2 separate regions of the Homo sapiens genome follow, and region 1 is linked to region 2. Evidence: fine-mapped expression QTL. A gene starts in region 2. The other region holds a variant in brackets. All regions are shown on one strand. Distances are from middle to middle.

Region 1 (2,921 bases), 690 kb before region 2:
CCAACCCTGTGCTCTCTGAAACATGTGCTGTGTCCATTCAGGGTTAAATGGATTAAGGGCGGTGCAAGATGTGCTTTGTTAAACAGATGCTTGAAGGCAGCATGGTCGTTAAGAGTCATCACCACTCCCTAATCTCAAGTACCCAGGGCCACAAACACTGCGGAAGGCCGCAGGGTCCTCTGCCTAGGAAAACCAGAGACCTTTGTTCACTTGTTTATCTGCTGACCTTCCCTCCACTATTGTCCTATGACCCTGCCAAATCCCCCTCTGCGAGAAACACCCAGGAATGATCAATTAAAAAAAAAAGAAAGAAAAAAAAATCTTTTATTTCTTTGTGATTTAGTCTTGGTTGTATGTTTCTGGGAACTTACCCATTTCTTCCAGGTTATCTGGTTCATAGACACACAACTGTTCGTAGTAGTCTCTTATTATGCTTTTTATTTCTGTAGGACCAGTTGTAAAGTTTCTACTTTCATTTGTGATTTTGTTTATTTGAGTGTTCTCTTTTTTAGTTAGTCTTGGTAAGGGTTTGTCGATTTTGTTTATCTTTTCAAAAAACCAACTCTTAGTTTTGTTGATTTTTTTCTATTGCTTTTCATTTTCTATTCCGTTTATTTCTGCTCTAATTTTTATTATTTCTTTCCTTCTCCTAACTTTGGGCTTAGATTTGTTTTTCTTTTTCTAGTTCCTTGAAATGTAAAGTTAGGTTGCTTATTTGAGATCTTTCTTCTTTCTTAATGTAGGTGTTTATCACTCTGAATTTCTCTTTTAGTAGTGCTTTTGCTGCATCCTGTCAGTTTTGGTATGTTCTGTTTTCATTTTTGTCTCAAAATACTTTATAATTTCTCTTCTATTTCTTCTTTGACCCCTTGGTTGTCCAGCTTCTCAAAAAGTTGTAAGAGTCATCCTTGCATCTTTCCTTTCCTAATTCTCTACAACCATTCTGCCAACAAGGTCTGTTAACGCTAATCTAAAACATATCTTGAATGTGTCCACAACTCTCCACACCTATTCCTTCATCCTAGTACAGTCACCATTATCTCCTGCCCAGATTTCTAACCAGAAACTGCAATCCTCATTTGTATCCGGAATTCATTTTCCATGCACTTAAAACCCTCTAACCAGAAACTGCAATCCTCATTTGTACCTGGAATTCATTTTCCATACACTTAAAGCCCTCCACTGTCTTCCCACTGTACTTAGGCCATTGTCCACATGCCCCCACCTAAGTCCAGCACAATCTGGCCCCTGCCCAGCCTTATAAACTCATCTCACATCAATCTCACCTTTGCTCACTCTCCTGTAGCCACATTGGTCTGCAGTTTGTTCTTAACATGATCCAGGTCCTCTGCTGTCCGACAGCATTTATCCCTGCTTCCGCTCTTGGGGATGCTCTCCTTCAGATCTTCACAGGGATCCCTTTTAATTCATGAATCTCAGTCAAATGTCACCTCCTCCTTCAGAGCAGCCTTACCTGACCACCTAAAGTGCCCTTTTCCAAGCTGCTTTTTCTCAGCATCCTCCTTATTTCCTTAGTGCATTCTTATAACCTGCTCTCTTCTTTATTTGCTCATTACTTATATATTATATATTTCCATTTTCTTCCAGCAAGTCAAGGAAGAAAATGGAATGGCCTTATTCATCACTGTCTTATTTAGCCTTATTCATCATTGTCTCTTCCAGAGCTTAGCCCAGTGACCAGTACATAGCAAACATTCAATAAATACTTGCTGATC[T/G]AGTGAATACATGAAAAAAGGAAGACACAATGAAATGAATGATGAAATAAATGTTGTTTGGTCCTGCTAATCTCCCACTGTCCTGGATCCAGTCCTGGATAAAAATCTTTGCTCCATTTTGTGTATGGTGGGGTTGAGAGACTCAGCCCATGAGAGAGGGTATTCAGAATGCATCTAAGGACACAACCTGACAGCAACAGAGATTTATCTTATCATACTTCCTAACAATGCCCTTGAGGCTACACCGGAGGAATACATTCCAGACAAGGGGCGTTGGCAACACTGGGGCAGCAAAGCAGTTCCAGTCTATAGCCCATTTCAGGGAAATGAGTCTTGAGAGAAAAGACCAGAACCATCAGCTCCCTACAAATAAATCCACCACACACTAGCATGGTTGGTTGGTTGAGAGGCTGCGGCATCTTCTGCTGCACTTGGAGGAAATAGGGGAAAGGGTGGCAAGGTGGAATATGACAGCATGGATGCCCACAGAAGAACTCTATTAGCATTCGGTGACTCAAAAGTCAGTCTTCCTTCTTTTTTTCTTTCTCTCTTTCTTTCTCTTTCTTTCTTTTCTTTCTTTCTCTTCCTTCCTTCTCCTCCTCCTCCTTCTTCCCTCCTTCTTTCTTTTTCTTTCTTTCTTTCCTTCCTTCTCTTTCTTTCTTTCTCTTTCCTTCCTTCCTTCCCTCCCTCCCTCCTTCCTTCTTTTCTTTTCTTTCTTTCTCTCTCTCTTTCTTCTCTCTCTCTTTCTTGACTCAGAAGTTTTTCTTTCCTTTCCTCAAGTGATCCTCTTGCCTCTGTCTCCCAAGTAGCTAAGATTGCTTTTTAAAAGTTTTTGTAGAGATGAGATCTTGCTATGTTGCCGAGGCTGCTCTTGAACTCCTGGCCTCAAGGAACCTTCTAGCTTCAGCCTCCCAAAGTTCTCAAATTACTGGCAGTAACTACTGAGCCTGGCTGTGAGTCAGAAGTTCTAATGTAAAGCCTTTATGTCTCTGCTTCTCATGTTAAAGGCAGACTAAGTGACTTAAGAGACTAAGTGACTGGCCGGGTGCGGTGGCTCACACCTGTAATTTCAGGACTTTGGGAGGCCGGGGCAGGTGTGTCATTTGAGGTCAGGAGTTTGAGACCAGCCTGGCCAACATGATGAAAACCTGTCTCTACTAAAAATACAAAAATTAGCTGGACATT
Region 2 (2,921 bases):
AGTGTTAGCCAATATGTAGGGAAAATCACACTGGTATATTCATATAGTGGGAGTGAAATTTTCATTTTTTTAAAGTAAGCCTCATGGATCAGCTGGTCTTTAAGAGTGGTCCAGCATTTTATGTCAGTGTGGAGGACAACTTGGCAACAGCTATCAGAATTTTCAGTGCACATAGTCTTTAGCCAGCAACTCTATTCTAAGATTTTATTCTACAGATAAGAAAGCACAACAAAGATGTGTATGAGATATTCATGCAAAAGATCAAAAACAATCTAAATGACCTTCAACGGTAGACTGATGAAATAAGGTTTGGTTCATATCCATAACAGTTGACTACATGGCCACTGAAAAAGAAATGTGCCAGTGTCAAATATCTCTTTAGTATATGAAATATACACTATATTAAGTGAAATAAGCAAGGCACAAAAAGACAAATATCACATGTTCTCCCTTATAACAAATATCACATGTTCTCCCTTAAATGTGGGAGCTAAAAAATTGATCACATGAAGGTAGAGAGTGGATAGATGGAGAAAAGAGACTGGAAAGGGTGAGTTGCGGGGGAAGAGGAGAAGTGGGTTAAAGGGTACAAACACACACTAAGATGGAAGGAATAAATTCAGTGTTGGATAGTAGAGTACGGTGGCTGTACTCAACAGAAATCTATTGTACTCAGGCAAACACTCTCAATACCCTGACTTGATCACTACTCATTATATGCATGTAACAAAATGTCTTATGTACCACATAAGTTTGTACAAATAAAAAAAGAAACATGTTGTAATAATCTCAGAAAAAAAAAGGAAAGACAAGAAATATGCAAGGCATGGAACAGAATACATTGTACAAACCCATTTGGTGAGGAAGAAAAGACAAGTTGGATCAAGATAAACAGAGAGGTAGGTAACTAGACAGGCAGACCGACGGACATAGCTGAATATGCATGGACCACTTCAGGAAGGACTCACGGAAAACCTCTGGGGGAAGGAAAAAGGAAGTCAGTAGGCCGACTTTTCACAGGACCTTTATGTATTATTAGAAACAAATTTACCATCTGCACATATTACTTTTTAAATTCAAAACTCAGTAAAATTTTTTAAATGATCTAGTGTAATGCAATGTAGCCTTCGAAAAATTCTCTGTAATAATAATAACAATGTTAGTAAAAAATAGTAATATTTTTCTATTTGGTTAATGCTTTCATTACTAAAAGGCATAATATTTTAAATGAACACCAGAATATGAAAGAATAACTCAACAATTCAGAAGTGAGGCAGGTTTAGTCTTTTAGGTGGGAAGAAGCTATTCAACTTTAAAAGCCTAAACTTTATTTATTAAGAAGTATATTATTTTAAAAACATGGGTACCAAGGAAACCTGGGCAGTCTAAGTTTATCTGTAGCTAGAGCCACTCCCTACCCATCCCCAACAATGTATTCAAATTCAGTGCCAAAAGTTACTTATTAAACACAAGAGATATTATGTCCGGGGGGAAAACTGTTGTAAACTTTGCCTGTAGGAGGACTGATCTCTTGATGAAATACAGAAAAACCATCTCAGAAAAAGGAAAATGGGCAATCGTCATGTAAGTACTCATTGCCTTTGGGAATTGGTTTTAATTTTGGTTAGCATGTGGAAGAATTTAAACTATAAAATCATGACTGATACTTGTATACTTTATCACTATGGTTACCCTTTAATATTGGTTTTAGCAACAGCATACCATGCTTTTAAAATGCATTGAGGCCGGGTGCGGTGGCTCACACCTGTACTCCCAGCACTTTGCAAGGCCAGAGTGGGCGGATTACTTGAGGTCAGGAGTTTGAGGTCAGCCTGGCCAACATGGTGAAACACTGTCTCTACTAAAAAAATTAAAAAAAAAAAAAAAGTTAGCTAGGTGTGGTGGAACATGCCTGTAGTCCCAGCTACTCAGGAGGCTGAGGCAGGAGAATCATTTGAACCTGGGAGGCGGAGGTTGCAATAAGCCGAGATTGCACCACTGCACTCCAGCCTGGACTACAAGAGTGAAACTCCGTCCCAAAAAAAAAAAAAAAAAAGCACTGGGGATATATTATTCCCTTATTGGCCAAAAATCTCTTAAGAGGGGCTAAAGAGAAAGAAGTATGTAAAATAAGGCAGTAAATAGTGCCTTGCAGAGAGCAAATGGTTAATATGTATCTGTAGAATGTATAACTAAAGCTGTTAGTTTGTAGCAAATTTGTATAAAACTTCATAAACTAAGCCCATTCAGAGTTATGTGGGAAAGATAGGTTCATGTTGCAAATATTAATAGACCAAGGTAAATACTCATGTAAGTCCACACAACTTGGATTGCAAGGTGAAAATATTCCATTATTATTTCTAAACATCCACATATTTGCAAATATCCATGGAATGGACTTAATAATTTACATTTCTTTTGAAATGTTTAGGCTCCTGAATAGTGTGTCTATAAATAGTTAATGACTAAAAACTGACTAAAACACTACCTTTTGGAACCAACTACACACAGGACAGATCAGAGTTGAATCTTGAATATTTTTTACATTGAAGTATATCTAAAGCTATTCCAATACAAATCTTAATAAGGTTTTGTGTACCTGCTGTAAATTTCCACAGCAAGAATGATATATTTCATGCACACTATGAGCAGAGAATAAAACTCCAAAACTTTCTGTAAACTGTTACTTTGTCTATAAGGTTTTTCCTTCGCTATATATTCAAGCTGCACTCAGATGTTTACAAACTTACAAATATATTCTTAGGAAAGGCATTGTTTTTCAAATCATCTACAAATAGCATTTTCATACCAGCAGAGATTATGAGCCATCCGTTCAGTGTATCTTTCAGAGAAACTGAAGCCTATTTTTCAAATATTTCTGATAGATGCAGAGGACCCCAGGAATAATCAATGGACCCTGC

What was found.
Region 1: its variant is fine-mapped to the expression of ANXA13 in liver (GTEx, PIP above 0.99).

The regions. Positions count from the first base shown.
Region 1 is chr8:124,428,706-124,431,626 of GRCh38, reverse strand. No RefSeq gene overlaps it. Among named protein-coding and RNA genes, the nearest start is that of TYW2, 21 kb to the left of the region's middle. RefSeq lists enhancers at 1-407, 2,406-2,907. The variant T/G (reference allele first, on the strand shown) is at 1,737.
Region 2 is chr8:123,735,983-123,738,903 of GRCh38, reverse strand. It overlaps ANXA13 (annexin A13), which reads left to right and starts at 1,511. Exons shown (of 11, transcript NM_004306.4): 1 at 1,511-1,584. The coding sequence starts at 1,570. The region is part of intron 1 of LOC105375739 (a long non-coding RNA gene); the gene reads right to left.